Homo sapiens: one gene and its partners. The protein of the gene in region 6 purifies or fractionates together with the protein of the main gene of each other region. This does not show direct contact. Each region holds a gene or a part of one and is shown on either strand. Other genes may lie near its edges.

The links.
Region 1: the proteins of TPP2 (region 6) and PAK4 purify together in Homo sapiens (co-immunoprecipitation; one large-scale study listed by IntAct). This does not show direct contact.
Region 2: the proteins of TPP2 (region 6) and ZDHHC5 purify together in Homo sapiens (co-immunoprecipitation; one large-scale study listed by IntAct). This does not show direct contact.
Region 3: the proteins of TPP2 (region 6) and XPO5 fractionate together in Homo sapiens (co-fractionation; one large-scale study listed by BioGRID). This does not show direct contact.
Region 4: the proteins of TPP2 (region 6) and OAS1 purify together in Homo sapiens (co-immunoprecipitation; one large-scale study listed by IntAct). This does not show direct contact.
Region 5: the proteins of TPP2 (region 6) and PEX7 purify together in Homo sapiens (co-immunoprecipitation; one large-scale study listed by IntAct). This does not show direct contact.
Region 7: the proteins of TPP2 (region 6) and TIPRL fractionate together in Homo sapiens (co-fractionation; one large-scale study listed by BioGRID). This does not show direct contact.

The regions. Positions count from the first base shown.
Region 1 is NC_000019.10:39,170,217-39,174,512, reverse strand, and holds part of PAK4 (serine/threonine-protein kinase PAK 4), read right to left. Parts: intron 1,596-4,296; coding exon 1,137-1,595; intron 938-1,136; coding exon 503-937; intron 1-502. UniProt on the Homo sapiens protein: Serine/threonine-protein kinase that plays a role in a variety of different signaling pathways including cytoskeleton regulation, cell adhesion turnover, cell migration, growth, proliferation or cell survival.
Region 2 is NC_000011.10:57,688,349-57,692,644, reverse strand, and holds part of ZDHHC5 (palmitoyltransferase ZDHHC5), read right to left. Parts: intron 4,138-4,296; coding exon 3,980-4,137; intron 2,615-3,979; coding exon 2,442-2,614; intron 2,311-2,441; coding exon 2,208-2,310; intron 35-2,207; coding exon 1-34. UniProt on the Homo sapiens protein: Palmitoyltransferase that catalyzes the addition of palmitate onto various protein substrates such as CTNND2, CD36, GSDMD, NLRP3, NOD1, NOD2, STAT3 and S1PR1 thus plays a role in various biological processes including cell adhesion, inflammation, fatty acid uptake, bacterial sensing or cardiac functions.
Region 3 is NC_000006.12:43,527,189-43,531,484, forward strand, and holds part of XPO5 (exportin-5), read right to left. Parts: coding exon 4,291-4,296; intron 3,637-4,290; coding exon 3,500-3,636; intron 2,189-3,499; exon of another isoform or gene 2,168-2,188; coding exon of another isoform or gene 2,061-2,167; intron 1,738-2,060; coding exon 1,640-1,737; intron 1,018-1,639; coding exon 971-1,017; intron 544-970; coding exon 446-543; intron 1-445. UniProt on the Homo sapiens protein: Mediates the nuclear export of proteins bearing a double-stranded RNA binding domain (dsRBD) and double-stranded RNAs (cargos). XPO5 in the nucleus binds cooperatively to the RNA and to the GTPase Ran in its active GTP-bound form.
Region 4 is NC_000012.12:112,905,182-112,910,096, reverse strand, and holds the start of OAS1 (2'-5'-oligoadenylate synthase 1), read right to left. Parts: upstream 3,136-4,915; 5' UTR 3,058-3,135; coding exon 2,878-3,057; intron 1,562-2,877; coding exon 1,273-1,561; intron 1-1,272.
Region 5 is NC_000006.12:136,911,698-136,914,915, reverse strand, and holds the end of PEX7 (peroxisomal biogenesis factor 7), read right to left. Parts: intron 1,459-3,218; coding exon 1,390-1,458; 3' UTR 982-1,389; downstream 1-981. UniProt on the Homo sapiens protein: Receptor required for the peroxisomal import of proteins containing a C-terminal PTS2-type peroxisomal targeting signal. Specifically binds to cargo proteins containing a PTS2 peroxisomal targeting signal in the cytosol.
Region 6 is NC_000013.11:102,603,256-102,607,551, reverse strand, and holds part of TPP2 (tripeptidyl-peptidase 2), read right to left. Parts: intron 2,760-4,296; coding exon 2,631-2,759; intron 1-2,630. UniProt on the Homo sapiens protein: Cytosolic tripeptidyl-peptidase that releases N-terminal tripeptides from polypeptides and is a component of the proteolytic cascade acting downstream of the 26S proteasome in the ubiquitin-proteasome pathway.
Region 7 is NC_000001.11:168,195,342-168,199,461, reverse strand, and holds part of TIPRL (TIP41-like protein), read right to left. Parts: intron 2,916-4,120; coding exon 2,820-2,915; intron 544-2,819; coding exon 481-543; intron 1-480. UniProt on the Homo sapiens protein: May be a allosteric regulator of serine/threonine-protein phosphatase 2A (PP2A). Isoform 1 inhibits catalytic activity of the PP2A(D) core complex in vitro. The PP2A(C):TIPRL complex does not show phosphatase activity.

The DNA of each region.
Region 1 (4,296 bases), on a different chromosome or scaffold from region 6:
GGCAAAGGGACCTGGGCTTCCTATCGTCAGGGTGCTACGGGGCACTGCCAGGGTCTCTAAGGAGGGACGGGGAGGGGGTGGGCCTGAACGTCAGAAACATACTCTTGGTGGTTGTGTGGGCTGTGCCGAGGGACACCCAGGAGTGGAGGCCAGGGCGGGGCACAGGGAACCCAGGAGGGGCAGGTCTGGAGGACACTGTACCCTGGAGCCCAGGCGGGCCTCAGTGGGTGCGAGGGGCCTGGAAGACACTGGGTCGGGGGTCAGTGGCCCGAGGAACCCTGGGTCTGGGGCTCAGGGACAGAGATGTGGGTGAGGGTGCTGTGAGGACAGAGGCAGGGACCCAGCTGGGGCGGACGAGACGGCCTGGGGAGGGAGAAGAGTGAGGGGAGGAGGGGAGCCTGGCCCAGCACGGAGGAGTGCAGGGAGAGGAGGGAGGAGGGGAGGGAGGGTGGGAGGGAGGGGTGGGAGGACCAGCAGGGCGGCAGGGCAGCAGCGCCCGCACCTCGTTGAAGAGCAGCTCGCGCCTCTGCTGCTTGCGCAGGTCCATCTTCTTGACGGCCACCAGCTTGCCCGAGCTGCGCACGGTGGCGATGCACACGATGCCCGTGGAGCCCTCGCCAATCTTGATGAAGTTGTCCAGGTAGGAGCGGGGGTCGCCTGGGTCCACCACCAGCTGCAGGGCAGCCCGGAACTGCTCATGGGATACTCGCTGTGGCTCCCGCTGTGGTGAGCGGGGGCCAGGGGGCCCAGGAACAGCAGGGGCGGCGGGGGTGCAGGCTGGAGGGGCCAGCTGGGGCTCTGAGGCGTGGGGTCCCAGCACTCCAGGGCTGGGGGCACCTCGGGCTCGGGTGGGAGGCCGGGAGGAGGAGGAGGAGGACTGGGGGATGGCCAGGCCCCCCGCTGATGGCCCGTTAGGGGCCACGTCATGAGGCTCCCCCTGAAACAGAAGAGAGGTAGCTGTCAGTGATGGGTGCCAGGGAGCAGCTCTGCTCCCTAAGCAGGAGAGAGACCCAGCGATGGGACAGACACATGGGTGGTCAGGATGAGATGCACGGTGGTGGGGCGGGGCTGGAAGGTGGGGACAGAGGAGCAACGGGCAGGGGACAGTGGGGGCCCTGGGGCGGGGGATGGGTTACCTGGGCACCCCGGGATGGGTGGTCCGTGTCAGCCCTCGGGTAGGTGTTAAAGGGCCGGCCAGCTGCCAGTTTCGCCCCACTGGCCAGACCAGCAGGCTGGGGGGTGCCGACATCAGGCCCGGAGAGGGGGCGTTTGTCCCGGGAGGACTCCTGGGGACCCCCTGAGCCCTCCCTGGAAGACTTGGGCCTCTTCTCTGGCCCCGCCCGTCGCCTGTCACCACTGCCGCCACCCGCCTCGCTGTGACCGGCGAACCGGCCTCGGCTGCCTGCCTTCCCTGGGCCCCCTCTGGCCGTGGTGGCCGGCTCCTCTGGCATCCCATTTTCCTGGCGGGCACGGGCGGGCGGCGGCGGGCTGTCTCTCCGCAGGGAGTTGGAGCGTGTCACCGACATGTTCTCAAACTCGTCCAGCAGCAGCGTGAGGGCCCCATCTTTGGCACCTTTGCTGCCCCGCACGATGGTCTGGGGTCCCAGGCAATGGTGGGTGGGGGCCCAGCAAGGAGTGGGGCACACAGGACGTGCATCCGACACGCAGGGACAGGACAGCACGACACACACAGAGACAAGACAGAGACGCAATGAAGAGATGCCATGGAGTGACAATGGCATGGGCAGTGCAGCCCCTCCCCTCCCTGGGGACACAGCTGCAGGGGCCAGAGGAGTGATCGCCATGGCCAGGCTGCTGCCCCCTGGGCTCGGTGGGACCCTGGAGAGGCCCCCCTTGTTTTTCTCCTGTTCCTCACACTGGTGGAATAGTCCTGCCCTGAGGGGTTTGGGGGAGGAAGGGCAGAAATTGACCCACCCCATAATCAGCCCCGAGGGCTGCAAATGACAGGGCGCTGGGGCCAGGGCCTGGCCTGGCACTTCCTCCCATGTGGGCGCCAGTGTTCCTTAGCCCCAAAACCACACTCTCTGCTCCCATGAACAACAAGGAGTGGGGGACAGGGAGAGTCAGAAAGGCCTGGTCCCAAAGTAGAGGGCAAGGGGGTCCCAGGAGCCGGGTGGCAAATGCAAATGCAGATGGGGACCAGGCAGAGCATCCAGTGCATCCCGAGTCACCCGGTCCCCACCCTCTGTGGTCTGAGTCGTGTCCTGCAGGCCCCCTCTGCCCCCGTTCCATTTCCAGACACACGGGTGTCTCCCCCACCCCCGCCCCCCTGCGCCCAGGGCCTCTCCGCTGGCGGCTCCCTCTGCCTGGAACATCAGCTCTCAGGGTCCCTGTGGCTCCCTCCCTCCACTCCTTCAGGTCTTTGCTCAAAACTCAGCTTCTCAGTGAGGCTTCTGCTGGCCTCCCATCATCTAAAATGCCAGCCCCTGCCCTCCCCGGCCCCTGCCCTGCCTGCATTCTACCTAGAGCACCTAACAGCAGCTGATACAGAGCACACAGGCATCTGTCTGCTCCCGGCTCTGCCTAGTGCATGCTCTGGGCAGGGATTGTTTTTTCCTGTCTGCTTCGGGTCCTGCTCCATCTCAGCACCTAGACCAGCATCTGGCGCACAGCAGGGGCTCAGTGAACTTTTGCTAAACCACGTAGTGAGTGAGGTGTCTGTGCAAAGGCCACAGTGAGCTGAGAACGTGGGCCCTGCTGACAAGGACCCTGCCCGGGGCTGCCAGATGTCCTCCAGCCGGAGGCCTGCCTCTAATGTGTGGAAAACACTGATCCCACGAAACCCGGACCCTGCCTGGGGCTGCCAGGCATCCTCCAGCCAGAGGCCTGCCTGTAACGTGTAGAAAACACTGATCCCACAAAATCCGTGGTCTGCCGCTGCCCTGTCTCTCCTGGCCGTGGCTGTCTGCCTGAAGCCGGGCCTTGCCCAGGGGCCCCAGGAAGTCAAGGTGGACACAAGGCCAGACTTTGCTGTTAGAACAGGGCGTTGAGGCAAGAAGCAGTGGCTCACGCCTATAATCCCAGCACCTCGGGAGGCTGAGGATCACCTGAGGTCAGGAGTTTGAGACCAGCCTGGCCAAAATGGCGAAAACCCGTCTCTACTAAAAATACAAAAATTAGATGGGCATAGTGGTGGGCGCCTGTAATCCCAGCTACGCGGGAGGCTGAGGCAGGAAAATCGCTTGAACCCAGGAGGCGAAGGTTGCATGAGCCGAGGTGGCGCCACTGCACTCCAGCCAGGGAGACAGAGCAGGAATGTCTCTCAAAAAAAAAAAAAAAAAAACCAACAGGGAGTCGAGAAGGTCCTGGGAGGCCTGAGGCCCGGTCAAGGGCAGCAAACACAAGTGCCTATGGGGCCCCAGGACAGTGCTGGCCACAAGGCCCCATGTGTGAATTCAAGTGCCCTGCCTCCTGCTGGGACAGTCACAGGCAGGCCTCACATCTGGCAAGCCAGGCAGGGGCTGGGTTTTTGGAGACACCTTGGTGGGGGCAAAGCCTACATGCAAGTGGCCACAGAGCCAGGCAGGGCGTGGAGCTGAGGTGGGTCGGGTGCGGCCTGTGGCCCAGAAGAGCCAGTGCCCTGCCCGTGGAGGCAGCTGCCACTCGCCTCCAGCTGGTCTGTCACCAGATGCCAGAAACGGCTTTGGAAGTGAAGTCTGTCACTTTCTCAGTGGAGGCAAAGAAGTCAAAGCATTCAAAAGCACCCTGCAAGGACCACACGGACCCCTCAGTGGGCTACCACATTGAGGCTGCACTTGTGTCTATGGCCAACTTGTGGGCCTTGGGGCTTCTCCCCGCCAGGCTGGGCTGGGCACCGGGAGGGTGAGTCCCCAGGCACACCCATCTCCACCCGCTGGATGCAAACCTGGCCGAGTTCCCCTTGGCCTGCGGCCCCTCCTGGTCCCCACTGACCATGGGAGAGAGTCCAGGCTCCAAGGCTGGCTTCAGAGGCCCAGCACGGGCTCAGGCCAGGCCAGCCTCATGCCAGGCCACACCCAGACACCGGCTCCACAACTCTTATGATTTCACATGGAGGCAGCAGAGGGGTTAAGAGCACGGGCCTTGGAAACAGACATTGGTTCAAATCCCAACCTTGCCATTTTGCTCTAGATGGCAGGAAGAAAAAAAAAAACCCAAAACCAAAAAGCCCCCAGCGTTTCACAGGAGTGATTTTCTCCACTAAAGCCCGGCTTCCCCAGCATCTGCTGGAATTTCTCCTCCTCCTCCTCAGCCCTGGGCTCTGCCTCGGTGTCCCCTCCTCCCAGAAGCTTGCCT
Region 2 (4,296 bases), on a different chromosome or scaffold from region 6:
AGGGGTTCACACCTCCCCGGAATTTACCCGTAACCTAGAGGGAGAAAAAAAATACCAGGTTAGAAGATGAGACCTTGACTTCCAAAGGCCAAAATACAAATCTATTACAAGTTATTGTGCACTCACTATCTGAGGGCTATGCAAATGAGTAAAACACAAGAAATTTATATATGTTATGGTTAAGAGCAGGGAATCTACAGTCAGGGTCCTTAGTTCAAATCCTAGGTCTACCTCATGGTTGCTGACCCAAAACCTCAGTTTCCTCATGTAAAATGGGATAGCTTTCTAAATATTGAAAACTAAGATAAAGAATAAGCAATTAAGGGCTGGGCATGGCAGCTCACACCTGTAATCCCAGCACTTTGGGAGGCTGAGGCAGGTGGATCACCTGAGGTCCGGAATTTGAGACCAAACTGGCCAACATGGCAAAACCCCATCTCTACTATAAAAATATATAAAAACTAGCCGGGCATGGTGTCAGGCACCTGCAATCCCAGCTACTTGGGTAGCTGAGGCAGGAGAATTGCTTGAAGCCAGGAGGCAAAGGTTGCAGTGAGCCGAGATCGTGCCACTGCGCCCCAGCCAGTGGGCTCCAGCCAGTGGGCTCCAGCCTGGGTGACAAAGCGATACTCTGTCTCAAAAAAGAAAAAAAAAAAGCAATTAAGGTTAGCTACTATTATATGCACAAAAATCATTGCTTTCCTGTAAGCAGCACTATAAGCTTCTTGAGGGCTAGCCTAAGTCTTTCATTGTTTCTATAAACTCAGAGCCTAAATTCTCCAGTATCCAGTGGGCATATAGTAAATGTCTGTTAACTAAGAAGTGGCCTCTATTCTTTTTTTTTTTTAGGAAGATCTTAAATATTTATATGTATATGAACATATATGTACATATACATATGTCTTGCTACACTTTAAATTTAAAAATCTATTAATATGATTTTTGACAAACTAAAGAAAGAATACTATTATTTGGATACCAAGTTCTATGGTGAGTATTGTTTAAAAAACTATCATCTTATTCTTTATGCTATATTGTCTAGTTTCAGTTTGGTTTGGGTCTCTCAATTGATATTTCAGGTGATGATGCCAAACCATCCAAGACTTTCTTTGGAGATAGATATTATTTTGTTATAAAATATATTTTTAGGCTGGGCGCAGTGGCTCATGCCTGTAATCCCTGCACTTTGGGAGGCCGAGGTGGGCGGATCACGAGGTCAAGAGATCGAGACCATCCTGGCTAACATGGTGAAACCCCGTGTCTACTAAAATTACAATAAATAAATAAATAAATAAAAGATATTTTAGCACTTTGGGAGGCTGAGGTGGGTGGATCACCTGAGGTCGGGAGTTCGAGACCAGCCTGGCCAACATGGTGAAACCCTGTCTCTACTAAAAATACAAAAATTAGTTGGGCGTGGTGATGCACATCTGTAATCTCAGCTACTTGGGAGCCTGAGGCAGGAGAATCGCTTGAACCCAGGAGGCAGAGGTTGCAGTGAGCCAAGATCACGCCACTGGATGCCAGCCTGGGCGACAGATCAAGACTCTGTCTCAAAAAAATAAAAAATAAAAAAAGATATTTTAGGGCAAAATTCAGCCTTTATCTCTATTGTCTTAGTATCTCTTTGAGAGTATCTTTATTATTATTATACTTACAGCTCTAGGGTACATATGCACAACATGCAGGTTTGTTACATATGTATACATGTGCCATGTTGGTGTGCTGCACCCATTAACTCGTCACTTACATTAGGTATATCTCCTAATGCTATCCCTCCCCGCTCCCCCTGCCCCACAACAGGCCCCAGGGTGTTATGTTCCCCACCCCGTGACCAAGTGTTCTCATTGTTCAGTTCCCACCTATGAGTGAGAACATGCGGTGTTTGGTTTTCTGTCCTTGCGACAGTTTGCGCAGAATGATGGTTTCCAGATTCATCCATGTCCCTACAAAGGACAAGAACTCATCCTTTTTTATGGCTGCATAGTATTCCATGGTGTATATGTGAGAAATGGCCTCTATTCTTACATGGCCTCTACACTTACATGAGGAACTAGGACTACCTCACTCCCTACCATTAATCTCTACATAATCATGAAAAGTATTCATTAAGCATCTCTTTGTGGAAGCACTACACTGCACACTAATCAGAAGGCTAAAGAGACATGACCTGCTCTTCAGGGGTCTCTCGTCACTTTTCTCCATACCTGTTCATTGGTTGTGCGTCCCCTGGCCACCAGAACCACGTGAAATCCCGTGAGGCCAGCTACAGGGATGAAGAATAAGCCAGCCACACACATTACTGCCATTCTGATGCCAAACAATCAAGGAGAACAGAGCAACATGACCTCACTTTCCCCGGCCCCTACTGCAGCCATTTTCCCTTTAGCCCTCATTCCTCCCCCTTCCAATCCCACAATCTAAAAGGCCTTGAAGGATACGTGACAGCCGTGCGGACCCCTGAGAGTTCCTCTATGTGGTAGAGGACATAAAGGAGGCCAAAGCCAAACACACCCATAATGTGGGCTGTCAGGGAAAGGAGGAAAAGGAAAAAATAACGGTAGTTCCGGCGACCAATACAGTTATTCACCCAGGGGCAGTGATGATCAAATTCCTAGGGACAAAGAGAGACAGATGAGAGGCATCCCTGGACCATAGCATTAAATTACTTCTGTCAAGAAGAGAAACAAATGGCAGCTAAGTTTTGATCATGGTCACCAATTAGTTCAAAATTAAATCCAGTTTATTTTGCTCTATAAATCTGCAAGGGAGACCTTCCAGAGGTTGGTCAAAGGCCAAGGCCAACCAGGCGTAGTGGTGCACACTTGTAGTCCCAGCTACTTGGGGGGCTGGGGCTTGAGCCCAGGAGTTCAAGGCTGTAGTGAACTATGATGACTGCCTGTGAATAGCCACTGTACTGGGCAACATAGCAAGACCCCATCTCTTAAAAAAAAAAAAAAAAAAAAATTGGCCGGGCGCGGTGGCTCACGCCTGTAATCCCAGCACTTTGAGAGGCCGAGGCGGGTAGATCACGAGGTCAGGAGTTCAAGACCAGCCTGACCAACATGGTGAAACCCCATCTCTACTAAAAATACAAAAATTAGCCGGGCGTGGTAGCGCGTGCCTGTAATCCCAGCTACTCAGGAGGCTGAGGCAGGAGAATCGGTTGAACCCGGGAGGCGGAGGATGCAGTGAGCCGAGATTGCGCCATTGCACTCCAGCCTGGGCAACAGAGCGAGACTCCGTCTCGATAAATAAATAAATATATATATATATAAAAAAGACCAAGGCCGGCTCTCAATGTTTATCCTATGTGACCAAGGAACTCTAAAAGTGACGAATGTCAGAGGTTTTGCAGAAACATCAAGATTCATAAGAAAAGAGGATTAGAAGGAAGATTTGGCAGGTAACTGCTTATAGCTAAGTGAAAATGGAATGGAAAAAGGACAAGGGATGCAGAAGGACAGGCAGGAAAACAACTACAACAAATTGAAACACAACAGCATGATTTTCTGGAAGAGAAAATGCAAAGCCAGGATAAATAACCAAAACTGAGCCAATAGATAGAAGGCTAGAACTATAAATCTTGGTGTCAAGAAAGCCTACACCCTGCTAGTGCAATGGCTCATGCCTGTAATCCCAGCACTCAGCACTCTGGGAGGCCAGGGCATGAGGATCACTTGAAGCCAGGAATTTGAGATAGTCCAAGCAACACAGTGAGACCTCATCACTACAAAAAGTAAAAATAAATAAAAAAGAAAGCCTATGCCCATATTGAGTTAAAGCTTCCCTCCTGCAATAATATTTATGCTCTGCCTCTCATGCCATGTCATTATTAACACCATTTGACAGAGCTGGACCATGTGGCCAACGTAGTTAGACAGGACTATACCACATCCAAAGCTAAGAATCTATTATATGGTTAGGATGAAGACAATGAAGGTTAAGCATGAAGTCTTACCCCACCCAGGGTGCTTACCTCCACACAGTTGTCACAGACACTGCAGTGGGAACATCGAGGGGGACGGTAAAAGCGGCAGGTGGCACACCATTTCATGCGCACCTGGATGCCCTTTATCTCCACTGTTTTGTAAAGGGGAGCTCGGAAATCATCTTCCTTGTCCTCATCCTCCTCAGCTGTAGAGAGGAAAAGTCAATTAAAAACAACTATGCCAGAACTGTAGTAAGTGCTAGGGATTCAATGATGTTTAAAATATAGCTTCTGCCTTTGAGGAATTCACAGTCTAATGAGTGAGACTAGGAACTAGGAACTATAAGACTGTGAGGTCAGGTCTT
Region 3 (4,296 bases), on a different chromosome or scaffold from region 6:
AATTCATAAAGTATCCTTAGGTTGACTTAAGGACTGCCTTGCTTCTATCTAGTTATTTCTTTTGGATCTGTCAGTGTTGCTACAAACATGAACTTTTTTTTTGAGACGGAGTTTCACTCTTTTGCCAGGCTGGAGTGCAGTGGCGTGATTTCGGCTCACTGCAGCCTCCGCCTCCCGGGTTCAAGCGATTCTCCTACCTCAGCCTCCTGAGTAGCTGGGACTACAGGCCTGCGCGCCACTACGCCCAGCTAATTTTTGTATTATTAGTAGAGACAGGGTTTCACCATGTTGGCCAGGATGGTCTTGATCTTTTGACCTCGCAATCCACCATGCCCGCCGCAAACATGAATCCTTTGCATTAGTCAGGCCTTCATGGAGTTGGCTGAGCGACCAGCTCTTCTTCCAGGAAAATCCTCTATAGCCCCAGTTTCGACATGCCACTTACTGATTAGGTCCATGACTTCTCGGGTTAACATCCTCACCAGTTGCTCCTCCAGCATCTCTTGAGACTCTGGGTTTTCATCTGCAGCCTCATCTTCTCCACTGCAGAAAACCAGGGGGCCAAGTTCCACAGGAGTGCAGAAAAGGAAGGACAAGGAAAGCAGCGACCCTAATCAGACTCTCTCTGACCACTTTCTTCTCCTTTGGGTCTTCGTTTTATGCAAAAGTTGGGAATGGACAGCAGTGATCCACTGAAGGACATTATTACTAGTGACTCTGTCCAGTTGGATAGACATTACAGAATTAAAATAAGTGAGTAAGGTAACAGTAGCCCCTATGAAGGCTGGATCTCAGAGTCTGCCTGCTGGTAACAGCCTGTCCAGACAAGCCATGTATCACCTAGGCTGAGAATGACTACAACCTACTGCTCTTCTACCCTGGGACAGCAGAATCCCTGCCCGCTTCCTTTTCCCACCCCAAACCTGGCTGCCAGTTCATCCACCAAGAAGAGTGGGTAGGTATCCCTTACCACAGCAGGCTCCTTTGGTTGATAACTTGCCATTTCTGAGAAAGCCTCTGGGAAAACACAAAGGAAATAAATGCTAGAATTGGGGAAAGGATTGGAACACATAATATCTAAAGTCAAGTCCACTTCATGATTAAAATTAGCCAAGGATGATTCTAGGCATCAATGACAACTTCTGTAGACTCCACACCACAAGGTTAAAAAAAACATCTATGGTTTCTGTAACCTATCCCACATCCCTGATGAAGGTGGTATCTCAAACACCTCTTTGCTTGGAAAGAATTAACAACATTTTTAGAATTCCTGGGTCTCTAGACATACCTGTTCTCCACCCAGCTGGTCCCCCTGCTTAATTCTAGAGTAAGGATAACAGACCCAGCATTCCTGGCAAGGGTCTGTGAGCAAGCATTCCTCTTTTTACCTCTCCTCAGTTAACAGGAGGTTAGGAGCAGAATCTGCAACTGAAGCTGTCTTGTGGCAATTAAATCAGTTTAGTTCTTTGGGGGCTGCTCGATCCTACAGCAAGGATAGTCAGCTGGGGTAGAAGCTCTGCCCAGCCAGTCTGGCAGGGCTAGTAGACAACACTTCTAGGAGCTCCTGACTTGCAAAGCTCAGAAATGGCCAGAGGCCTTAATAGTACTCTTTGCTTCCTGTTCCTGACTTATCTCTTACCATATGGAGGTAGGTGAAAAGAGGTCCGAGGATGGGGGATACCAGGGCTTCATAGTGCTCTGGGGGACAGAAGAGCACCAGAGGCTTTACAAAGACACGTGCTGCAACAAGTTAAGAAATTTTAGTGCATAGGCACACATCTCTCACCTGCCAGGTGGTGGGTTGCACCCCTGGGCAGAATCAATCCCTAAAGGATTTGCCAGATGTCAAAAATATCCTGTGTTAACAGTGAAAAAATCTTAAAGTTCTTTTCCTAAAATCCTAAATGGCACTGATATTGAATTCCATTATACTCTTAGTTTAGCTGCATTTCCGTCAGGCTGCACATTATGGTCACTGGCCCAAAAAGTAGGAATAAAAAAATAGGAAGGAGGACATCCTTGTAACAAACTCTCCTTCACCATTCTCCTTATAATTTCAGGTAAGAAAGATTTGCTGGCTGCGGTGGCTCACACCTGTAATCCCAGCACTTTGGGAGGCCAAGGCGAGTGGATCACGGGGTCAAGAGAGCGAGACCATCCTGGCTAACATGGTGAAACCCCGTCTCTACTAAAAAAAAAAAAAAAAAAAAAAAAAATTAGTCGGGCATGGGGGCGAGCGCCTGTAGTCCCAGCTACTCGAGAAGCTAAGGCAAGAGAATGGTGTGAACCTGGGAGGCGAAGCTTGCAGTGAGCCGAGATCACGCCACTGCACTCCAGCCTGGGCAACAGAGCAAGACTCCGTCTCAAAAAAAAAAAAAAAGAAAAGAAAGAAAGAGATTCAACTATTAATAAGGGTCTGAATGAGAATGAAGTGTTAAAACTGCTGCTTCTGGCTGGGTGTGGTGGCTCAGGCCTGTAATTCTAGCACTTTGGAGGCTGAGGCAGGAGAATTACTTGAGCCAGGAGTTTGAGACCACCCTGGGGAACATAATACAGACCCATCTCTACAAATAATAATAAAAACTAGCTGGGTGTGGTGGTGCGCATCTGTGGTCCAGTCCAGGCTCTTCAGGAAGCTGAGGTGGGAGGATCACTTGAGCCTGCACTGAGCTTTGATGGCACCACTGCATTCCTGCCTGGGTAACACTGAGACCCTGTCTCAAAAAAAAAAAAAAAAAAGTGCTTCTAAAAATACAGAAAAGGGATAAAAGTTTTATCTTTCACAGCTGGGCATGGTGGCTCACACCTGTAACCCCAGCACTTTGGGAGGCTGAGGCAGGCGGATTACTTGAGGTCAGGAGTTTGAGACCAGCCTGGCCAACATGGCGAAAACCTGTCTCTACTAAAAATACAAAAAAATTAGCTGGGCGTAGTAGCATGCGCCTGTAATCCCAGCTACTTGGGAGGCTGAGGCACATGAATCACTTGAACCCAGGAGGTGGAAGTTGCAGTAAGACAAGATCATGCCACTGCACTCCAGCCTGGGCAATAGAGCAAAACTCTGTCTCAAAAAATAGGAATAAAAATCAGCTGGGCGTGATGGTGCACACCTGTAATCACAGCTAGTTAGGAGGCTGAGGCACAAGAATAGCTTGAACCTGAGAGGCAGAAGCTGTGAGCCGAGATCATACCACTGCACTCCAGCCTGTGCAACAGAGTGAGCAAGACTGTCTCAAAAAAAAAAAAAAGTTTTATCTGTAATAATTCCGAGAAGGGGGAAGGTAAAAATTTACCCCTAAGGAAAAGTTTATGGCCATCTGGACTGCCTTCATGTTTTCCCTGCAATCTGCCAGTGTTTTTAATGACATGATACACTTAGATACATAATCTCATCTCTTCCTTCCAGTTCTGCCTCTTCCCTCTGGTTGCTGTGACCTGTTTTGTTTCTCTCTCTAATTTTCTGACCTTTTGGGTTATGTAGAGACTTTTGAAAGGATATGAAGCATGGGTCTGAGTCGGTAGTCAGGAATATTGTTCAAGTTGACAAAGGCTGAGCTGAGAAGCTGGGTAGCAAGGTCCTCCACAGTATAGAAGTCTTGCTGCATGGAAGGGCCTGCCTTCCCTAGGATATGAAAACTGTAAAGGGGAAAAAAAGAGCATTGAAAATGACAAATCCAACATCTGTTACTGCCAGCCCTGTCCCATGAATTTCATTTCTAGCCTACAATAAGGTTTTTCAGCCAGAAGAGCAGTTGTATTTACTTAAGAGAACTTATAGATACAGCATCTTTTTAAAGACAGATGTTGGTGGCCGAGATCAGCAGTAGCTTTCATTACTATTTAATGTGGACTTACAATGGACGATCTCATTAGCTTGGCTGATTAGTGTAGTGGTTAGTGAGGCCAAAGCCCATGAGGGCCAGTTACCTCCCCAACCCACAACCAGTATCCAGCCACCCGACTCCTATGAGAAGTATGCCGCAAGCAGTGTAGGGTCTAAGCAATCCCCACCACTTTTAGCTTCGACTTGGGTTTCATCATTTTATACACTAGAAACACAGACAAGTTGGGCATGAAGCAGGCTGGGATTGTGAGGCTCATATGACAATTACAAAAAAAGCAAATGCAGGAAAGCAGGCTTTCATTTCTATTTAACACTAGAATGATAAGTTTCCTATCAAACTCTTGCCTCGCCTTACCTGTACACTAGATGAAAAGTCCAACCCATGGACATTCCTATACAATACATATCGAGGAAGAAAATATGGAGAGGCAGCATTGGTTCCTTACCAGTTT
Region 4 (4,915 bases), on a different chromosome or scaffold from region 6:
TGTGACCAGCCTTCTCCCTCTTGTCTTTTACAACCATTGTACTTCAGCCCCCAACACAGGAGATGGCACAAAGGAGAGAATCCAAAACTTTCTCATACCCTGGTGTCTTTGGAGAGTCAGCATTTTTTTTTTCATGGCTGCCCTAGGACTAAAGGAAACTGTGACAGTTCCTTTAATTAAGTCCTAATTACTTGATAATTAATCACTAATTACTGCTTAATGACCAACTATTAATTAGTAGCCACTAATCAGTAAGTTCAGTTTAATAGTAGCCGTTTGTGCGGTGTGTGACAGATGTCATCGCATTTCCCTCAAAAAATTAAAATCTAAACTATTCCGTGTCCCTCTGTGAGTTCACTGTGGTGTTTTGAGGTGCCTTCATATACAGCTGGGAAATTCATAGTTTTGACTGATTGACTGATTGATTGAGACAGGGTCTTGCTCTTGCTCTGTGCCTAGGATGGAGTGCAGTGGTACATTCGTGGCTCACTGACACCTCGAATCCTTGGCTGGCCTCATGTGATCGTTCAGTCTCAGCGTCCTGAATAACTGCGACCACAGGCATGTACCACCACACTTGGCTAATGTTTTAAAATTTTTAGTAGAGATGAGGTTTCACTTTGCTGCCCAGGCTGGTCTTGAACTCCTGGGCTCAAGCGACCCTCCTGCCTCAGCCTCCAAAAGTGTTGGAATTACAAGCATGAGCCACCACACTTGGCTGGAAGTTCCTATTTTTGAACACCTATTACTCATCAGAGCTGAATGTAGATGATCATTTATCACTTAAAATAATGATATGATACAGGTAGTGTGGTTTTACCAATTCTCCTGATGTGGCAAGGGAGCCTCTGAGAGGTTACACTTCCTGTCCAAATGTTCCTGCAAATTATAAATATCTATCTCCCAACGTGCTGCATACGTTTGATGAGATCTCATGTTGGGACAAAGATGAGAGTAACATGAACTTTAAGCCACATCTTTGCTGCCTGATTTTAGAAAGATAAAATTCACACATTTTGCCTTAAACAGAACCAGTAAGCCTTGCAGATGTTCTGTAAGAAATGTCTTTGTCCCCACATTATGCCAATTTGCTGTTTAATGTCTCTCCTGTGATAGATCATGACCGTATTCATTCTTGCCCCGGGACAGATCCTAAGATCTCCTCCCACCCTGCTTTAGAGAGATGCCCTGTTGGGGCAAAAAGCTCTCAAACTGTGGGAGATTTCTGCTCAGAAATGGGAAGAGGGAGAAAAAGAAGCTGGGAGCTCTCACCCAGGGCATCAAAGGCAGGCAGCACATCGAACTCCACCCCCTCCCCGAGCTGGAGCGAACTCAGTACGAAGCTGAGCGCACGGGGGTTGCCCCAGCGTGGAGCCTGGACCTCAAACTTCACGGAAAATGCTCTCTCTCTTTGACAGGCTTCCAGCTGTCTCCTAATTTCCTGGATGAACTCTCCCCGGCGATTTAACTGATCCTGAAAAGTGGTGAGAGGACTGAGGAAGACAACCAGGTCAGCGTCAGATCGGCCTCTGAGGGTGGTGCCCTTGCCTGAGGAGCCACCCTGAAAAAGACGACAAAAATAATAATTGATGCTTAGTGAGGCAAACCTCCCTAAATAAAATGACAGGAGCAATCACTAACATTATGGAGCACTAGCCACTGTTCTGAAGGCATTGCATGTCTTAAACTCCTATAATGCTCACAATGATGCTATGATTTGGATGCCATTATCATTAGTTCCCATTTTACAGATGGGAAAATGGATGCTCAGTGAGATAATATATCAGCCCCATCACCCAGCTAGTAGGTGGCAAATACAATTCAAACCTGGGGGCCTTCTTCCAGGATCTGTGTTCTTTTCCCATTGTCCTTTACGATGCCCAGGACTAGCTTATGCTGGGTGGTTCACACTTACTATTTTACTTAATCTACACGGCCCTATGAGGTATTGAGGGAAAGTAGAGGAAAAATCAGTTAGGTAAATGGTCAAGGCTGGGCCCTGGAGGAGCGGCCTGCCTGAAACTGGCGCAGGGAGTGGGACTTACCTAAAACAAATCCACAGTTATACATACAAGAGAAGCAGCGCTTTATGCTTGCCTAGAGATATACCCACAGCTGCATAAGGTAAGGGAAGTTGCACAGCTTTACTGATAAAAAGTTTCTCAAACAGTTACAGGGAGGAGAGTGGTTTCTTATAAAAGTTTTTTGCATTCAGCTGCAATCTGGCAATCCACTCAGACTTCCCTCTCCACAGTGGAGACAGCTTTCTTCTTTTGCTTACTGAACTTTTGCTCCAAGCTCACGTTTGTGTCCATGTTCCTTAATTTTCTTGGATGCAGGACAAAGAACCTTGGGTACTAATTCAGTGAGAAGCTGCTACATTAAGGTGCACTGGCAAGACTGCAACAGTATTGGGGATTATGGCTGAGGAAATTGGAACACAGAGTAGTTAAGTGACTTGCTCAAGGTCTTGCAGCCAGCAGGTGCTATTTGCTTTCAAAACATATGATTCTTCACTGCAGAAATGGTGAGCCCCTAGCCTGGCCACGAATTAGCAAACTGTTTACCAGAGCTGGGATTCAGTTCCCTATTTCTGAAATGGGCATCGCCCAGGACAGTGGTTCATAAACTTCAGCGGGAAGTAGGGGGGAGGGTCACTTGTTAATAATAGGGATGTAGGATTTCACCCCAGAATCTATTTTAACATGCTGTGTGGATAAATAAGAAACCACCATCCCAGAAGATCTCAGCTCTCTGTACTCACATTTGCACCCTGGGTTCTAGGTTTTTGCTTCTCTCTCTCTCTCTCTCTCATTCTCAATCTCAACTCTTGCACATTCAGCCACCCCTCCCCTGGCCAGGCAGGCCTGGACTCACCTTTACCACCTTGGACACACACACAGGGTAGGAGCTACCTCGGAAGCACCTTTCCTTCAGGAACCCACAGATGATGTCAATGGCATGGTTGATTTGCATGCGGAAACACGTGTCTGGCAAGAGATAGTCTTCAATGAACTTGTCCAGAGATTTGGCTGGGGTATTTCTGAGATCCATCATTGACAGGAGAGAGAGTGGCAACAGAACTGCCTCCCAGACCTGTTTGCTTTTATCTCTTCTGCTGACTGAGCTTGGACTGCTGTTGGTTTCGTTTCCTCAGAAGGGAGGAGCTGTCTTTGCACTTTCCTTTTGCAAATCAGACACTCCCCTGATCCCAGTGCTGAATTTCATCTGCTCACTCTTCTGCTTCCTGAAACTTACCCTTTGTCCTTTAGCCAGCAACAAGCAGCCCAGCCTTTCTCTGAACTCTGCTCTGGAAATGCATTTTAACCTCCAGCCAACATAAATCTTATTTAACAGATTTTGTGTTTCCTTCTTTATCTTTTTTTTGTTGTTGATGAAATCCTTTCACAGTTGTCTGTGGTATTTTCCAGCAATACATGCCCACTGCAAAAAGAAAAAAAGTCAGAAAAACCAGGAAGTGGAAAGATCATCTATGATTCTAACACTACAAAATTGCCTCTATAAACGTTTTGATATAGAGCTTTCCAGATTTTTTTCAAATGTTAACACACACACAAACACAGGTCTCTTTTCTTTTTGTTAAGAATGGTATTATACTATGCTTTTTTCCCTTTCAATTAGTAGATTTTTATTTTATTTTATTATTTTTTGGAGACAGGATCTTGCTTTGTTATCCAGGCTGGAGTGCAGGGGCATGATCATGACTCGTGCAACCTCAACTTCCTGGGTTCAAGGGATCCTCCTGCCCCAGCCTCCTGAATACCTGGGACTACAGGCATGCGTTACTGCACCCAGCTCATTTTTTATTTTTTGTAGAGACAAGGTCTTGCTATGTTGCCCAGGTTGGATTTTATTTCTCACAGCAGTTTTAGGCTTACAGAAATATTGAGCTGAATGTGCAGAGAGTTCCATAAGCTCTCTCTCCTGCCAATAAGTTCCTCTATTATTAACAGTACTGTGATACATTTGTTACAATTGATGAATTGATATTAATACATCATAATTAACAAAAGTCCATTTACATTAAGGTTTACATTAAGGTTCACTCTTGTGTCCTACAGTTCTATGGATTTTGCCAAACATAACATGTCATGTATCCACCATTACAGCACCATGCAGAATAGTTTTGAGATAGGAGGTGGGGCTTGACTCAGGGCCAGATTGAAGACTGGCTGGCATGAGCACCAGCACCATGAACAGTTTACTCATTCCCTGGCAATGACCCAGTTACCACCCTTCTTCTAGAAATTTCTGAATAACCTGCCCTTAATTTGCACGTATTTAAAAGTGGGTATGAATGTGACTATAGAAGTGCCCTGAGCTGCTGCTCTCCAGGCACTGCCTATGGGGTGGCCCTGCTCTGCAGGGACAGTCACAGAACTGTAACCCTGCTGCCTCAATAAACCTTTTTCTTCCTCCTCTAGCTCACCCTTGAATTCCTTCCTGGACGAAGCCAAGAGCCTTCCCGGACGGTGTCCCAGTTTTGGGGCTCCCCTGCCCTGCAAGAGTTTCACTACCTTAAAATCCCCTATGCCTCACCTGTTCATCCCTCTCTGAGTTAGATCTTTCTTCTCCTAATATATGCATTCAATGCTATAACTTTCCCTCTAAACACTACTTTCACTACATCCCACACTTTTTGATAGGCTGTTTTTTCATTTTAATTTAATTCAAAATATATTTATTTATTTTGTTGAGACAGGGTCTCACTCTGTTGCCCAGGCTGGGGTGCAGTGGCACAATCTTAGCTCACTGCAGCCTTGACCTCCTGGGCTCAGGTGATCCTCCCACCTCAGCCTCCCAAGTAGCTGGGACTACAGGTACATGCCACCATGCCTGGCTAATTTTTGTATTTTTTGTAGAGATGGGGTTTCTGCATGTGGCCCAGTCTGGT
Region 5 (3,218 bases), on a different chromosome or scaffold from region 6:
GTTGCCTGTGCCAGGCAGGGTGGTAGGGCCAAGCCTGGCACAAGGACAGAGTCTGCCCTCTAGGCCATAGGCACTGAACTGTGTAACTGTTCAGATTTCCTATTTATGAAGCTAGAAACCTTAGCGGCAAATCTTTGGCCCAGTCAGTAGTAACTTTACAGGACTTTGAGGTATGTATACTCAAGCCCCACTCTTGCCTCCACTTTCTGTCTTTGGTTCCACTTCTTAATTTATGCTGTTGTTTTGTTTTTATATCTTAAGCTGTCTTAAATTTTTTCTGCAACAAGTAAACAAGGAAATCTATAAAGAAGACAATATACATATATTTTAGTTTATTTTTGCTCTGATTATTATGAGCGTATTTTGTTCTTTAAAAAGAACTTAAGAATTATAATCTTTGCTATTTATAGCATATCTTAATATTATGTAGAAAATATAAGTGTTATGCAAAGTAGTTTGTTTTGCTGATTTTTCCTCTTTAACCAACTTTTTTTGTTTTTTTCAGTTCATCTGCACCTAGAGCTTTTTCAAGAAAACTTAGGGAGGTGGCAAGGAGCACGTATAGCTGTACTTAGGCCTGGTTTCAAGGGCAAAAGCTAGAAGCCTTAGTAGGACCTAAAACTTTTTGTTTAATTGACAGTTTAAAAAAATTTTGATATTAGAGAAGTGGGAAGACAAAATTATAGAGTCATGGGTACAATATCTAAAAATGTGTGAATAAATTCTAAGAAAAAAAAAAAAGTAAGCTCTTAGCTCACAGCATTCCATGTTCTTAAAAACATGGCACCAGTCCTTGACAGAATCTCATTGAGTCTATGTGTCAAGCACTGAGTAGATGCTCAATAAACAGCTACTAAATAAAAGAATAAATTAAATATATTCTAGTGTCCTGTTACTGAACCACAGATATATCTATATTATATATAGTACTATATTCACATATACAATGTATTAGAAAGAGCAGTCTTTTGGGGGAAGTTATAAAATGATAAATGATCAATAGATAGTTTATTTATCACAGCAGTGATTATATTTTACATCAAAAATGACAAATTAAAAATGAAATATATCACTATCTATATAAGTATAACCTACTGATCTCCCATATTTTAATCCATTTTATGACCCAGAGACATTTTAATAGATACTACAAGATATATCATAACATTAATTATTTCTTAGAATTTTAAATATGGCTTATGTATCAGGCTTAACGAGTCAGCTAAAGTCTTTATCAGCTCCCTCAAAACTGATTCCAGGGTAAATTGGAAAGATTTGAAATCTGAATAGCATATAAAAGCATAATGTCTATGTTTTCCATAGTTAATTTATTTGCTGTTAGGCAGTTCTTCAGCCAACATCCTCTGTTTCTGACCAAAGTAGTGTATCTCAAGCAGGAATAGTAAGACAAGCAGGGTCATAGATCTTTATTGTTTCATCCCAAGAACAGTCAGCCACCTAGAAAACAAAAATGAAGTAAGAAGAAACGTATTTAGACATACAAAAATTCAAAATTGACAGCAAAAACTCAAGTCATTTAGAGTGTCGTAAATCATCCACTAGTAAACATATTTTTGAATAGGGAAAACATAGGGCTACGTTTTTGATAAAAGGTCCATATTCCCTTTTTAGGATATACCTCAGGGTATTCCAACTGATTCCCATTGATTGAGTATATTCCAATTGGTATATTTCAATTGACTGAGGTTTCCTATAAGAATGTCCCCCACCTTCACTTCACCCAACAGCTACATAATTCCCTACTATCTGATATAAATGTCGAAAAGATACGTTCCAGACTGTGAACAAGATGCTGTGCTCAATATTGTGGGACTGGAGAGGAAGATAAAGTAAAGCTCTTGCCTTCAAAAAATGGCTCATTCAAGACTGAGTGTGGAAGGTGCACTAACAGAGACTCTTAGGGGGACTATATGATTCCAGCTGGGACAGTGTCAGACAACTTCACAATGCCATGGCATTCCCACTGGACCTCTGTAGGAGGCAGACATAAAAGACAAGGACATTCACATCTACAGAGCCATAGGAAAACATGAAGGGAAGAAAGTCCAGGGTGTTCAGGAACTATGCATTAAAAACTTAGTGAATATAGCAATGTCTCCGGGTATAAAATTAATATATGAAAACCACTGTGTTTCTATATACTCGTTTTTTAATAGAAATGGATGAGGCAATTTTTAAAATTTATGTGGAAATGCCAGGACTTAGCCAAAAGAATCTTGAAATGAAACAAAGCTGCACTACTTAACACTAGCTGACTTCCAGACTCAGCACGAAACTACTGTAATCAAGACTGTGCAGGATTAGGATAAAGACAAGTAGATCAAAGGAAGAGAACAGAGTTCAGAAATAGGCCCCACACTTGGACAAATGGCTTTCAACAAAGGTACCAAAACAATTAAAGAGCAAAAGGAAAAAATAGTCTTTTCAATAAATGGTGGCAGAACAACTGAATATCCATAGGGAAAAAAGTGAATCCTGACCCCAACTTTGCACATAAAAATGAATTTGAGATGCACCACAGACCTAAATATAAAAGCAAACTGTATAACACTTTCAGAAAAAAAAAAAGGAAAATATATTCTCAATACAGAGGTAAGTAAAGATTTCTTAGGGATACAAAAAGTAATAATCAAAAATTTGGTAAGTTACACTCAATCAAAAATAAAACTTTTGCTCATCAAAAGACACTGTTAAGAAAATGAACAGGCAAGACACAGTTATATAAAATATTCATAAAATATACACCTGACAACTTGTATCAAGAATACATAAAGAACCAATACAACTCAATAATAAAAGGCAATCTAATGAAAAATGATGGGCAAAAGTAAGCACATAAAAAAGTGCTCAACATCATTAGGGATTAGGGAAATGCAAATAAAAATGACAATGAGATACCACCATATATTCACATTATGGCTAAAATTAAAGATTGACAACACCAAATGTCAGCAGGGATGTGGAACAGCTGTGATCACATACATTGCTGGTAGGGAAGGTATATGGTACCACCATTTTGGAAAACAATTTGGCCGTTTCTTACCAAGTTAAACACATACCTATCTTTTGACCCAGTAATTCCACTCCCAGATATTTGTCCAAGAAAAATGAAAACATATGTTTGCAAAACAATGTAGACACGAATGTTCATAGCAACTTCATTCACGATAGCAAAAAATCGAAAACAAGGCTGGGCA
Region 6 (4,296 bases):
CTGCAAGACTTACTAGGAATTCTCTCTAGCTTCTCAGAGTACCATAGCTCACAGGAATCCCAAGTTTCCCTTTGAAACATATTCTAATAACAAGGTTGACTTGGGGGAAGACAGGCCAAACTCTAGAGTAATTCAGAAGGCTGAGCATTTCTAACCCGAAAATCTGAAATGCTCCATTGACCATTTCCTTTGAGTGTCATGTTGGCACTCAGAAAGTTCTGGATTTTGGAGCATTTCGGATTTTGGATTAGGGAGGCTCAACTGGTATATTCAATGCAAATATTCCAAAATCTGAAACCTAAAACACTTCTGGTCCCCAGCGTTTCAGATAAGGGATTCTCAACCCGCACCGTAAACTGGATGACTCTGACAATTGAAACTTATTTTTTCATAGTTCTAGGGGCTGGAAGCTCAGCATCAGGGTGCCAGCATGGTTGAGCATAGGTGAAAGCCCTCTTCCTGGCTTACAGAGGCCACCTTCTTGCTGTGTCCTCATATGCCCTAGAAAGAGCTTGCTCTAGAGAGAGCTCTCTGATGTCTCTTCTTATAAGGGTACTAATCCTATCCTGAGGGGACACATACTCATAACCTCATCTAACCCTAAATACCTCCCAAAGGCCCAACTTTCAAATACCAACACAAAGAGGGATAGGGCTTCAATGTATGAATTTTGGCAGGGGGTGGGGACACAGATAATCAGTTCCTAACACACAGAAAAGGAAGTAGAACCTGGATTATTAATGGCTGCTATCTGCCCATGACAGGCAGATTTCTAAGAAGACCCACGTCCCTCCCCTAAGTGAAGGCAGGACCCGTGAATATAATGAGATGTCACTCCCATGATTGCGTTATGGTACGTAAAGAAGGTGTAGGGATTTTGCAGACGCAATTAAGGACTCTGAGCAAATCAAAAGTGACATGATTCTCAGCGGGCCTGAACTAATCAGGTGAGTTCTTTAAAAGAAAGACTGGGGTCATCACCAAGGTCAGAGATTCTCTTACTGGCCTTGAAGAAGCAAGCTATCATGAGTTTTACAGCTGCAATGAAATGAATTTTTCCAACAATCATGTAAACTTGGAAAAGAAGCCTGAGCCTCAGCTGAGCCTTTAATCTTGACTGCAGTCTTGTGAGACCCTGAGCAGAGACCCACAAAAAGCCATGCCTGGACTCCTACCCCATGGAATCAGTGATATAATAAATACAGGAATACACAAGGTTTTAGGCGGCTAAGTCTGTGGTGCTTTATTACACGGCACAGAAAGCCAATATGCTGCCACAACAAGCTTACTTAAAAGACAAGACCTAAGAACAATTCAGATAGATGGCAAAAGGTGGGAAAAGCTAACTAAATAACCATAATTTTATGTTCCAAACTAATGCTGCTTAAGAGTACAGGATCACAAATTCTTGCCATCCATCCTTCATGCTCCTTAGCTCATGAGCTCCTCTGTGCTTGCTTTATAATTATTTTTTACGTTTAGCTTACCCAGGCCTTTCTACCAAGGACATAGAATAAGACAAAGCTGGTAGGCCGAGTGCCCTGGCTCACGCCTATAATCCCAGCACTTTGGGAGGCTGAGACAGGCGGATCACAAGGTCAAGAGTTCGAGACCAGCCTAGCCAAAATGGTGAAACCCTGTCTCTACTAATCATACAAAAATTAGCTGGACGTGGTGGCGGGCACCTGTAATCCCAGCTAATTGGGAGGCTGAGGCAGGAGAATTGCTAGAACCCGGGAGGCGGAGGTTGCAGTGAGCCAAGATTGCACCACTGCACTCTAGCCTGAGCAACGGAGCAAGACTCTATGTCTCGAAAAAAAAAAGAAAAAAAGAAGTTTAAAAAAAAAAAAAAGACAAAGCTGGCCATTTAAGTTAACAGCTACTATAGCCTAAGTATTTCTTCATGGTCAAGTTAACTGGGAATACTATGAAGGGACAGTAAAACATGAAGGCAAAGCTATGATGTGGTTACTTTCTCTATCTTTGTATTCAAAACATAAAATTTGGCAAGCTCACTGAAAAATACCGCCCAATTCTAATTACCTCATCAAACAACAAAATAATGGCTTCTTCTAAGACAGCTCCAATGATTCATTTCTTGTGAAATCCCTTCCCCTTAAGTGTGTGCTAGATTTATTAACTCACTTCCAATGAGCTCAATATAGTCAAGTGATAGGTGGTCCCTTAGAAGGTCACTTTTATAAAAAGCCTGTGGCTTTCATCGTGGGGACTCTCTCGGCTCACTCCCCCAGGGAAGGTGCTGCCAGGTACTGCAGCACTGCGGAGAGGCCCAATGGCAAGGAGCCAAGGCCTGCCAGTGACCCACCAGTAGGCTTGGAAACAAACTTCCCCTTCTTCTCCCAAGCTGAGCCTTCAGCTGAAGTCACAGCCATGGCTAACCATTTGCAACCTCCAGGGCGACTGGAACCCCGTTAAGCCACACCCAGATTCCTGACTCACAGAAACTCCGAGGTAATAAATATTTGTCATTTTAAACCAGGATGTTCTGAGGTAATCTGATATGTGGCAATGGATAACTAATACCACCACCAAATGTAAGGTAAAAACATTAGATGCTTTGAGGCAAGAGTAAAAAAAAAAAAATTCAAAAAGAAGACAAAAGGTCTCACCTTAAGCACTCTTCCTGAAAGGCCAACAATCTCACCATCCTTTGGCTCTACTTCTGTAGCAGTATTCACATCGCCACTTCCTGTTGTATCAATGATATCAACGATTTTTGGTTTTCCATCAGTTGTAACCTGAAAATTAAGAAAATTAAAATATGAATGGTAGATTTTAGGTTTTTATTCCTAAACAATGCAAATCCACATATATATGTGTGTGTATATACAAAATCTACATTCACTTAAAAAAGAGAACTGAACTGTTTTAAGCCAAAAGCCTGAACAAATACTAGTAAGAAAATTTAATCGTGGAAACACTACAGAATCCTTCAAGTCGTTTCATATATTCAATAAACAAATATTTACTGAGCATTTACTATAGACCACACCCTATTTTAGGTGCTGGGGATATGGCAGTGATCCATACGCAAAAATCCCTGACGATCTTATAGCGAGAAAGCAGTTCAGTTAATAACAAAGTAAAATAAAGAACATGTCAGATGTGCTATCACACTGGGTATTAGGGAAAAAAAAGAACATGTCAGATGGTGAAAATTAACTATGGAGAAAAATTAAGCAGGGAAGGGAGATGGTCAGTGTGGGGTTTTCAACATAAGTTTGGCTGGTCAAGGAAGGCCTTGCTGAGATGGTAACATTTGAGAAAAGATCTAAAGATGGTGAGCTGTGGGCTGGACAAGTTTAGAGCTTTAGGGGGAAAAAATGTTTAGTAGTAATGGTACCATTTAATGGCACCATTATTGGATGCCACACTAGCACCTCAAACGCAACAAAGTTCAAGCTTAACATGCCCCCCACCACCTGATTTTCTCCAGGCTTTGCCATCCCAGGAATCCCCACGCCCAGCTGTTCACACTGGAAACTTAACAATCCTCCTCTGATTCTTTACTTCAGTTGACTCCTCACAGCGAAGCTAACAGGAAATCCTGTTAATTCTTTGTCTAGAAGAGAGCTCAAATCCATTGCATTTTCACTACCACTATCCTAACTTTCCAAACCACCACCATCTCTTGCCTCCATGAGGTGAATTACCTAAGTGGTCCCTCAGTTTCCACTCTTGGCCCCATCAAAAGTAATACAGGCTGAGTGACCCTAACCTGAAAATTCCAAATGCTCCAAAATCATGGACATGAAGTTCAAAGGACATGTTCATTGGAGACTTTCGAATTTGCGATACTCAACCTGTATTAAAACAAGCTGTATTTTATCAGTCCTCTCCTTTAAGCCCATCAATGTATTCATGGAGCACTCAGAATACTCGCATAAAAAGCCTCGCACCATCTGACCCCTGCCACCCCGTTACTCAGGAGTCTAACCACGCCAACCTCCTTTCAATTCCTGAAACATGCCAAACTTTTTCCTGCCTCATGACTTTTTAAACAGGTTCCTTCTGCCTAGAATTCTTTATCTCTTCAGTTGTTCCACAGGATTCTATCTTCTCTCAGTTTTCTATTAAAGTCCCTCCTGCAGAAAGGCCTCCTCGATGACCTCCTTTAGGTAGCTGCCATCCTAAACTGGATTATTTTTTCTCACTGTACCTCATTTCCTTCACAGAACATAATTCTATTTCTAATGATACAAGTAGGTGATCTTCATCTGTTCCCCCTATTAGAATAGAAAGCTCCATGAAGGCAAGAGCCATGTCTACTTTATT
Region 7 (4,120 bases), on a different chromosome or scaffold from region 6:
AGCAACCCATTATAGAATCCTAAGTTCTAAGGAAGGCTTCACAGGTCCCGGGGAGTAAAAAATAAAGAAAAATGATGCCAAAACAAACAAATTATGGTACAGAATCACCACATTTTCGGAAGAGAAAAGGAGACTATGTAGAAAGAAATAAGGCGGCAGGGTGGTAAGTGTAAAGAACATCCATCACCAGCCAGCTATGTGACTCAGAGTAAGTCACACCTCTGGGTTTCAATTTCTCTAGAACAAAATGTGAAAATTAGATTAGATGAGGCTTAAGTACCTAGCAGCTCTAAATGTTCTTGTATTTGAGGTAAGGTCAGAAAAGTTATGCTCCCATAGAATTTATCCTATAGAGCCCCATTAGGTGAATGAATGGGTTTAGGGATGTAAACTTGGGTGGTTGGGGTCAGGGGTATATGCTACTTAAATTAAAATGAAACATTAAAATTAACTTCTAAAAACTGAAATTTAAGTACTTGCCATCAAACTAGAAATTTTGCTTTCTCGTGACGTATATTCTCGTAACATGTAGGTCTTGTCAGCCTGTATTTAAAAATAAACAGTTGCAATAAATTTAATTATACTGATTTACAAAATCCTTTGTATTAAAAACAGACTGCCTACATTTTAGGATAGGTTGTCAAAACAGCATGCAGTCTAAAGAGAACATCTTGTTCTACACTGAGATAACTCCTATTTAACTCAAATTGGATTATTATTTCCAATTTCTATACATTATAATGATGATACACATATGTAAACAGATTTTATAATTACCATGTAAGAGAAACATAGCAAAGATTTTACTTTGAAAGAATATGTATATAAATGAATAATGTATATAATGAATTTGTATAAATGAAATATGCAAGAGATTTTAAAATTACTTCAAGTTTGAAACATCTTTCCCTTAAGCTATCTTATCATTTACCTACGTAATTGTGCTACTTTTATGTTGCAAAACATGCTTTAAAATTTTTATTCTTTCCCATTCCATAAAGCTCTTACCAAATAGCTTACTTAAAATCACCTTTTTTGTACTTCAATTTTTCCCATTTAAGATTTTTGGTTAGGTTTTAGAACAGCAACTTATTATAATTTACTTCTTGAAACACTTTTCAATAAAAGAAAAGCCACAAAATTATATGCCTTTAAGGTTTCACTCTCTTGTATTAATAAAAACAGATTAATAGTCACTGTAGGAAAAAAATCAAATAATATAAAAGTATAAATCATCAGTGATCACAGCTTATAGGTAACACTATCTTTAATACTTAGAAATCTCTACAGAGAATCTTATGTAAGTAGATTCATACTTGCTTTTGAAAGTTCAACACTGAAATGAATATCTTTCAAAATTACTTAAATATCAATCTCTGCAACCAATTTTAATAATTATATATTTTATACCATATGGATATAAACAATTTAATTAATGGCCATTTAATGGGCATTAAGTTCCTACTTTCCTTCCTTTCTGCTATTATAAACAATACTACTGTGAATATTCATGTACGTATAACTCTGAGTAATTGCCCAATTAATATTAGTAGATTATTATATAAAAGAATCTTTTTAGGATAAATTCCTAAAATTCAATATTGTTTAATTAAAACAGTATTTTTAACATTTAGGCCAGGAGCGGTGTGGCTCACGCCTATAATCCCAGCACTTTGGGAGGCCGAGGCAATTGGATCACTTGAGGTCAGGAGTTCAAGACCGGCCTGGCCAACATGGTGAAACCCCATCACTCCATTAAAAACAACAACAACAAAATTGCCAGGTGTGGTGGTGGGCGCCTGTAATCCCAGCTACTAGGGAGGCTGAGACATGAGAATTGCTTGAACTCAGGAAGCAGAGGTTGCAGTGAGCCAAGATCGCGCCACTGCATTCCAGCCTGGGCAACAGAGCAAGACTCCATCCATCTCAAATAAATAAATAAAAATAAAATTTAGATTTCTCTTTCTGGGGAACAAAAATATAGCTTATGTTTAGTACTTTGCCACCACTTTTAAAAGAAAAAAGGTCTATCACTATAACCATGTTATTTCAAGAAAAAATCCCTAAGTGAAGGGTTTAGAAAGCATCAATCCAATCCTATCCTACTAGGTTCAAATTCCAATTCTGCCACCTACTAACTGTATAACTTAGGTATGTTTCTTTTTTTTTTTTTTCTTTGAGACAGGGTCTTGCTCTGTCACTGCAGCCTCAACCTTCACCAGCTCAAGCAATCCTCCCACCTCAGCCTCCCAAGTAGCAGCTAGGACTACAAGTCCGTGCCACCATGCCTGGCTAATTTTTTGTATTTTTAGTAGAGACAGGGTTTCACCATGTTGGCCAGGCTGGTCTCGAACTCCTGATCTCAGGTGATCTACCCACCTCGGCCTCCCAAAGTGCCGGGATTACAGGCGTGAGCTACGGCGCCCGGCCTTGGCCTGATTAATATATTAATGTACTTCCTGTATATTAATGTACATCAGGACATTACATAAACAACATATACTGTAAACAAAGGTAAGAGTTAAAGGACAGTTTTCTTAAACATGGATTAAGTACATACAAAATTGTCTCAAAAGACCCCTCCCCAATTAGGGAGTGTCTTTTAGAAAACATTTTGAGTCACCAGAACCTTTGTAAAAGGAAATGTAATGTTTTGATGATAGCCTGCAGTCAACAGTGAATGTGAAACACTCAGACTTAACAGTTAGAAAGACTGCCATATAATATAGATTGTTTAATTTCAAATTCTCAGATTGACAATTAAACAACACAAACAAGCCCAGTATCAATTAGTATATTCATTAAACAACAATAAATACCTCATGGTAAAGTCTCGTGTCATTCATTCTGATAAGCACCCCATCAATTCTCAAGAAAAACCGCAACAGCAGGAAAAAGCTAGAAGGCATTACTCTCTGGAAAAAAAAAAAAAGGTACATTAATATTTTAATAAAAATTAAACATTTTATTACTTTGCTGAAAGAAAAAATTTGAAAACAAAAAACAAAAAAACCCTGGAATAAGGCTGAATTCACAGTTTATAAAAATCTCTCAACTAGAAGCTCTTTGTCCTAGCTCCAACTAGCCTCAAAACCTTGTGCAAACTATTTAACATCATAGTTTCGGTTTCCTAAAATATTTTTTCTAGGTGAGGAGATATTGAGGTTTAAAAGACTTAAAAACATACCCAAGTAATGTAAAAATTATAATGTTTATTTCAAAAAATGGCAGGTACTGATAGTAAATGTCAACACCAATAAAACCAAAATGAAAGAACAACCTAGTTCTTTGTCACTACTCACCTATTCACTTTACATAAAACAAAGCAACAGACCTTACACAGAATGCTCTAATTCAGTGCAACCTGTAGGCACTATTACATATTGCTAAAGACCTGGTTTATCAGAACACTATAACACATTCTTAACATCTTTCATCTGTGGCACATCTACAAATTCCTCTGCTTTCCAAGTATAACTACTAATGATAGGCAGAATCAGTGGAGAAAGTATGAAGGTGGGTCCTGGTGGCGGGGAGAGAGCGGTTGAATGGAATGTGAGGTATTTGGGTCTTTAAAATGAATATGTTTAGCTGGCATGGTGGCTCACACCTATAATCACAGCAGTTTGGAAGGTTGAGGTGGAAAGATCACTTGAGCCCAGGAGTTCAAGACCAGCCTGGGCAACAGAGTCAGACCCCATCTCTACAAAAAATACAAAAAATTAGCAAAGCACGGTGGCACAAGCCTGTAGTCCTAGCTACGTGGAAGGCTAAGCTGGGAGGATGGCTTGGGCCTGGGAGATAGGCTGCAGTGAGCCATGATTGTAACACTGCACTCCAGCCTGGGCAACAGAGCAAGACCCTGTCCCAAAATTAATTAATTAATTAAAATGAATATGCTTGGCCATTTGCTGAATAAATACCTATTGTCTACTAACACCAAGTTCTTACTATAGTAAGTCTTGGATTTATATAAATGAAAAAATAGAATCCCAATGCTCAAAAAGGTTATCAGCCAGGGAAAGGTCAAACAGATGTGGTAGCTGCTATAATGGGTATGCACAAGGCTCAATAAGCATTTGAGAAAGAAGTACCTAAGTCTGCTGAAGAACATCAGATA